Linked DNA regions of Homo sapiens. The protein of the gene in region 1 interacts with the protein of each later gene in a biochemical or structural test. Each region holds a gene or a part of one and is shown on either strand. Other genes may lie near its edges.

Region 1 (3,497 bases):
AGCCATTCCACCCCCTCCCCTGCTGGGGAGAATGACACATCAAGCTGCTAACAATTGGGGGAAGGGGAAGGAAGAAAACTCTGAAAACAAAATCTTGTTCTATGCAAAAGCCTTGATAATGTCTCCTCTGCCTGGCCCCAGCTTCCTGAGCCCCTAAGCTGACCCTGTAGGGAAGGGTGGGACTTTCAGCCCTGCTGAGGGTCACATCCCCTCCCAGCTGGAGAGGAACCCAGCCCCCACACTCGGGGGAGGAAACCCAGTGGGAGGTGGCAGGGAAGCCACCCACAGGTTTCTAAGTTTAGCCCCCTGCTACAGACCACTCCCTTCACCCGCCTCCTTGGCCCAGAGCCAGGCATGACCTCATCCTTTGCTCTAAGACTCCACCCTGCTGGCCACTGGCCTGCTTTGTAGACAGGGGGCCAGGCTGGCAAGCAACTTGGACATGAAAAGAGATGGGACACCAAGCACCCAGAGGGAAAGACCGAAAGCTGCCACACACGTTGGAGCCTGTAGCCTTTATTCATGCCCCCCTGACCAAATGCAGTGAGAGACAAGGCCCCTGCCGAAAACAACTCCAGGGGCCTGGGACTCTGGGTCCCCTACTGCAGACACTTTCCTGTGAGCCAGAAGTGTATAAAGTGCTGGTGTGTGACCATCCTTTGGGGAAGGTCAAAGGGGGCAAGATCCCCAGGGGCCCTGAGGAAGGGCAGGGCATAGGCGTGGCTCCCAGAGCGCTGGGAGGGAGGGCCCGTGCCACCACCTCGGGGCTAGAAAACAATGCAGTCCTGGGCAGGAGGGAACTGAAAATGGGAGCCTTCAGCATGGAGCCCTCAGGAGGCTGGGGTTGTAGGGGGATAATTTCTGTACCCCTGTGAAGGGAGGGGGCATGTAGGAAAGGCCTTGGGGATCTCAGAGAATGGGACAGCCCCTCCGACGCTTGTTCTTGCGGACCTGGAGGCCAGCCCGAGTGGCCATCTCAAACACCTCCCGCACTCCCTCCTTGGTCTTGGCTGAGCACTCAAGGTAGCCAAAGGCACTGATCCGGTTCGCCATGTCCCGGCCTTCCTCAGACCGAACGGGCTCCTGAGAAGACATAAGATGAGGGGTCAAAGGAAGCTGTTGACTACATGAACCTCTCCTGCCTCACCCATAAGTGTAGCAGCTGGAACAAATGCCTCCTTCTCCAGCCCTGACCCAGAAAGCGCCCAGGCCCCAGCTACCCTGGGCAGCTTCGTGGCCAGGGATCCAAAAATCCCTCCAGTCTACTCCCTCCATTCCCATGCAGCCCCACCTCCTCCCACACACAGCCCCTGGTTCTCTTGCCTGAATGAGCGTCTCCCACCTCCTGACTGCTCTGCCTCCATCCTCACTCTCTTCCAGTCAGAATTATTTTTCTAACACACAGACCTAACATCTCCCCAGTTTGAAACTTTGCCATAATTATCTTTGCATTTCTTATCCTGACAGCTTTCTCTAATAAACTCTAGTCCTCTGGCTAGAGAGCCACTTACAGGTCCCTGAATAAGCCAGCTCTCACATCCCTTCTTCCAGCCACTTACACAATGCCTGCCCTCATTCCCGCATCCACATCCCTACACCTCCCCCAGGGGCACTCTGATGGCACAGCCTGGGTATCCCAAGTGAAACATAAGCTGTCTCCCCGAGGGCAGATTTTCTTAATCATCTTAATAGTCCCAATTCTGAACGGAATGGACAATTAACTGGAATAAATAAAAATGCCAAGTGACTTTGGACAAGTCACTTCATTCTGATACCTCATCAGACACAACCCTATGGGTCCTCCCTCACCAGGAGATATTACTGTTTCCCCTAACACACGGCAGTAGCTGGAGAGAAGTTCCCTTTGCCCGTCTGCAACCCCTCAGAGGGTGCATTCTTCCCCAGGGGCTCCAGCCTGGCAGCCGTACCCACCTGCTTCATCTTGGCCAGCTCTCTCCTGGTGTGCTCGTCTTGCCTCAGGTCCTTCTTATTCCCCACCAGGATGATGGGCACGTTGGGGCAGAAGTGCTTCACCTCTGGGGTCCACTTCTCAGGAATGTTTTCTGTGTAGACATGCACCAACAGGTGTCGGTGCCTCCACTTAAGCTAGAAAGCTCCCCTGGGGGGGCCCTCATCTTCCCAGAGCAGTCTTAGAAGCCATTCAGCATGATGGTCCCTTTCACAGCTCAAAACCTCAACAGTAGTATGCCCTCAGAGGGCCAGTTACCACAGTAAAGGAGACCAACAGGGCCTGAGTGCTCCCCTGCATCCCCACCCCCACCTCTGAAGATGACTGAAGACAGGCCAAGGCACGAGACCTCTGGCTGATTCCAAGGGGTTCTCAGTCCCCTCCCTCCAATCCCCTCACCCAGGCTGTCAGGGCTGTCGATGGAGAAGCACATGAGGATGACATCAGTGTCCGGGTAGGAGAGAGGCCGCAGTCGATCATAGTCTTCCTGCCCTGCTGTGTCCCACAGAGCCAGCTCCACCTGACACACAGGGCCAGTGAGTAGCTGGCCTGAGGGCCCCAACCCTGCCACCCAAAGGTCCCCTGAAACCACTGTCCTTCGGGCTCACTGAACTTCTTTATTTGAGCACCTGCTATGCACCAGGCATTATATTAATCACTGTCCCACAACATAAATTAGGTCAGTTTGTTAAAGAAATCTAAGACGTGTTTGACCCTTGAGTTGCCACTGTGAGCACCATTATTTTGGTTAATTCTCACAACAACCCTTTGAGGGAGGTCTTACCATCATCCCCATTTTGCAGGTGGGGGAGCTTAAACCCAGAGGCAAAGGGACTCGGCCCAGGTTACAGAGCCAGTCTGTGGGAGAACCAGAAAGTATATCCAGGTTTTTTAAGACTGCAGATTTACTTCCTAACTTTTACTGGTTCCAGCAGGGAGAATGAAGCAAAGACAGGGGTAGGAATGGGGAAGGACATACTAGGTCATTCAGTGACTGGGGGGCGGGGTCTCAGGGTGGGGTGGGAAGGGCATTTCTGCCTTCACCTGCTTGCCGTCCACCTCAATGTCCGCAATATAGTTCTCAAAGACAGTAGGGACGTAGACCTCCGGAAACTGATCCTTGCTGAAGACGATGAGGAGGCAGGTCTTCCCACAGGCACCATCCCCAACGATCACCAGCTTCTTTCGGATTGCAGCCATGGTGGGGCTGCCAGGAAAGACGTATTGGGGATTTGAGGAAAAGCCATTAAGTCCAAAAACACTTCTCTAGGGCCCCCAAACCTCCCTGGAAACCGAGGCATCTAGCAAAGGGACAGGGGGCTTGCTCAGGCATGTTCTGGCAAAACACCAATTGTGCGACAACAGAGCTTGAAATTCCTAATCTCTGGGTCAGGGACAGGTCTCCCTCGATGGGTTAGAATACAGTGGTGGGAGGTAGATGATGACCCCACTTGGGAGCTGGAAAACATGAGTTTCAATCTAATCCACTTGCCAACCTGGGGACTCCAGGTAGCTAGAGAGCTGCTCA
Region 2 (3,726 bases), on another chromosome or scaffold:
TGGGCACCCACCACATACAACATAGTGCTATTCTAAAGACTGGGAATACAATTGTAAGCATGACAAACAAAAGCCTCTGTGGAACGTACGTTCTAGTGTGGAGAGACAGATATTAAGTAAATATCAAGCCATGATGAGATCCTTAACTAAAAATAAAACAGATTGATGGAATGAAGAGACCGCGGCTACTTTAGAAGAAATTTCCAGGGGAGGTTTCTCTGAGGAGTAATATGAAAATCCATCCATCAGAAGATGGGGTGGGGGAAGTGCTTTCCTAGACAAGGGGACAAGGGGACACTGTGCACAGGCCCCAAGACAGGAATTTGCCCAGAGTATTTGAGAGAGGGCAGGCAGGCTGGAGCTCAGGAGGAGGGGGGCACATGATAAGGAAGAAGGCCAGAAAGGTGAGCAAAGGCCAGAACACACAGGGCAGAGCTGGCGTTTGCACTTACTCTGCTGCTTTGTGGAGAACAGATCATAGGTGAGTCTTAGGGCAGCAGGAGGCCAGTTGGGAAGCTACCACAGTGTCCATGAGCAAGTGCATGGGGGCTTGGGCCCAGGATAGTGGTGGTGGGGATGGAGAAGTCAACAGATTTTAGATCTTTAAGTAGTAGCAACAGAACTAGCTGGCAAGTTGGGACAAGTTGGGGAGAGGCAGTAAAGAAGAGAGAGGCAGTGGGGAAGACTACAGGAGGAGCATGTTTAGGGTAGGGAAATCAGGACATCTCTGCTGTGGTGTTGTTGAGATGTTTTTTAGCCCCCAAATAATGTGAATGTCAAGTGAGCAGTTGGAGTTCAGAAGCATCAGGGCTGAAGATGTAAAGTCACAAGTCATTAGCATGTAGGTGGGGTTAGATGCGATTCCCACAAAGGAGTAGAGCTGTAGAAGAGAACAAGAGAACAGGACTGTACCACAAACTTACCAGGTAGCACTGCTTACATTCCCACTCTACAGATAAGGAAAACAAGCTTAGGTGGTTTCAGTGATTGGCCCAAGGTTCTAGGAAACAGTAGCACTGGGATTGCACCCAGGCAGTCTGACTCTATAAGCTCTACTCCTAATCACTTGGCTGTAGTAGGCAGGTCCACACAGCAGTGCTGTTTTGCTTCCTTCATGTGCCACAATTTCTCTGCAGGAAGAAGATGATGATGGTCTGCCTAAGAAAAAGTGGCCAACGGTAGACGCCTCTTATTATGGTGGGAGAGGCGTTGGAGGCATTAAAAGAATGGAGGTAAGAGGACAGCTTCATATACACTTATCTATGTGCTGACTACTCCCATCGAGGTACCAGCCGGGCCTGACCCTGCTTAGCCTCTAGATATCAGGCATGCCCAGGGCAGTATGGCCGTAGACCACACTGATGACTCAATGTCAGAAACCCAAAGCAAATTGCTGAAAACCTCCTTGAGGTCTGGTGGGGATATGGATTGTAAGGCAGACGGATGGAGAGATAGGAGGGACAGCCTTTCACTGTGCGTTTCCATGTCTTGCCCACCGTGAGTCAGAGCAGGTCACACATCAGCTCAAACGTCCTCGTGATTTCTTTTCTCACTGGAATAAAATCCAAAGTTCGTACCTGAACCTGCAAGGTCTTTGCATGTGCTGTCCCCGCTGCCTGGACAATTCCTCCCTAAATATCCACCCATGTGGCTCAGCTCTCTGCTCCTTTGGTCCTCCCCTTTTCTCTTTTTCCACAGTTTCCCTCTTCCCTGGCCCTCAAAACCCAAAGGAATCCAGGGTTGGGTAGCATTCACATTGCAACTCATGCATGTATTTGTCATTCTCATTCTCGAGGGGCAGCATATTTTGTCATTTCATTTCATTGTATTTTGTTTATTTTAGGTTCGTTGGGGAGAAAAGGGCTCCACAGAAGAAGGTGCTAAGTTGGAAAAGGCAAAGAATGCAAGAGTCAAGATGCCGGAGCAGGAATATGAATTCCCTGAGCCGCGAAATCTCAACAACAATATGCGTCGGCCTTCTTCCCCCCGGAAGTGGTACTCTCCAATCAAGGTGTGTCTCTTTACTCAAAAAATCTATCATCAGTCCTGATAAAACACTTACATAGTGAAGAATCAAAATCTTTCCACATGATAAAATCCCAACCTAAAACCCAGCTTATCACAGGGGAACAATTATCTAAAATTATGGACTTGAAAGTACTAGTAATTACTTTGTCAATTTCCACATAATCTGGGTTGAAAACTAGGCTTTTTAAAAATCACCGTGGTGCTCACTTCTGCAGCACATATAGTAAAACTGGAACAATATAGAGAAGATTAGCATGACCCCTGGGCAAGGATGACATGCAAATTCGTGAAGTGTTCCATATTAAAAAAAAAAAAAAAATCACCATGGCAAGGTACTGGAAAAAGCATGGACTGTGAGTCAAGTAACTTGGGTAGTAACCCCAGAGAGTGACTATAAATTTCCATAGCATCTCATAACTTCACTTAGCAGACAATCTACTATCTAAGAAAAATGGCAGCCTTCTCCTTAATGCTAATCTCTACTCCTTTTGCCATAATATAAGCCCATTCCCTTTTATTTGCGCCTCCTGCCAGTGTATCAGGGCCCACCAGCAAATCTCACTGGTCATGGATCTAGGACTCACTCTTTCTGGTTGTAAGCAAATCTTTTTTCTCCACCATCTGTCTTTCCCCCACACCTCCAGATCTTAAAATCCTCTTTGGTTTATTGGGAAGTGTAAACCGTTGGAGGCAGTTAATGTTTCCTAAAGGCCTCTTTTTTATTTTCTATTTATTTATTTTTTGAGACAGGTTCTCACTCTGTCACCCAGGCTGGAGTGCAGTTGTGTGATCTCTGCTCACTGCAACCTCGACCTCCCAGGCTCAAGCCATCCTCCCACCTCAACCCCCAAGTAGCTGGGACTACGGGCACGCACCACCACACCCAGCTAATTTTTGTTTTTTTTTTTTTTTTTTTTTTTTTGAGGGACGGATTTCACTATGTTGCCCAGGCCTGTCTTGCACTCCTGATAAAGCAGTCTGCCCACCTCGGCCTCCCAAAGTGCTAAGATTACAGGCATGGGCCACCATGCCCAGCCTGAAGGCCTCTTTTCTATTCTTCTTGGTCCAAATGGCTTTGAATTCACATGATTCAGTTAACACCTTCAATCTTTAGCCATGCCCATAAACATCTGCACTATGCCACTTGTCAGAGAGCACTGGAAAATTATAGCTGAAAAGACTCTAGACATAATCTGTCCCCACTCTCTGATTTCATACTGAGATAGGCAAAGTCCTTGTTCTGCTGAGGTCTGGAAAACAAGGCCCCCAACTCAGGGCTACAGACTCCAGTTTCAAGCTGCAAACAGAACCGAACCAACTCCAAAGCCTCAAGTCAAAGACTCAATAGAGCCAGCTCCCATCACCATCCATACACATACACACACTCACACACACACACACACACAGCCTTACCCCCCTTCCAATAGCAACAAAGATTATTTTCATCATTCGCTGAGTTAATTTGCTAATTTTGGATCAGGGCTTCTCCAACAAATCAAAAGAAGTACCATTTCAGGCAGTGTAGCGAAACGTTATTGGTGGTTACCTTTCCTCAGCTGAGCTAGCTCAAGCTCACCTGAATTGCCACGCATTTCTATTTTGGTTTGCCATGTTTGAAGCAGTGAGATTCTTTTTTTAGGATAAGCCTGCCCTCTGGGGTAATGGATTGAACTCTGGAAAGATGTGGGCAAAATGCAG

What was found. The genes of interacting proteins can lie anywhere in the genome.
Region 2: the proteins of RHOC (region 1) and ANTXR1 form a complex in vitro, tested with the Homo sapiens proteins (one study listed by BioGRID).

Annotation. Positions count from the first base shown.
Region 1 is NC_000001.11:112,700,631-112,704,127, forward strand, and holds the end of RHOC (rho-related GTP-binding protein RhoC precursor), read right to left. Parts: intron 3,177-3,497; 5' UTR 3,170-3,176; coding exon 3,014-3,169; intron 2,490-3,013; coding exon 2,369-2,489; intron 2,064-2,368; coding exon 1,933-2,063; intron 1,084-1,932; coding exon 910-1,083; 3' UTR 501-909; downstream 1-500. UniProt on the Homo sapiens protein: Regulates a signal transduction pathway linking plasma membrane receptors to the assembly of focal adhesions and actin stress fibers.
Region 2 is NC_000002.12:69,180,650-69,184,375, forward strand, and holds part of ANTXR1 (anthrax toxin receptor 1 isoform 1 precursor), read left to right. Parts: intron 1-1,136; coding exon 1,137-1,232; intron 1,233-1,843; coding exon 1,844-2,011; intron 2,012-3,726. UniProt on the Homo sapiens protein: Plays a role in cell attachment and migration. Interacts with extracellular matrix proteins and with the actin cytoskeleton and thereby plays an important role in normal extracellular matrix (ECM) homeostasis.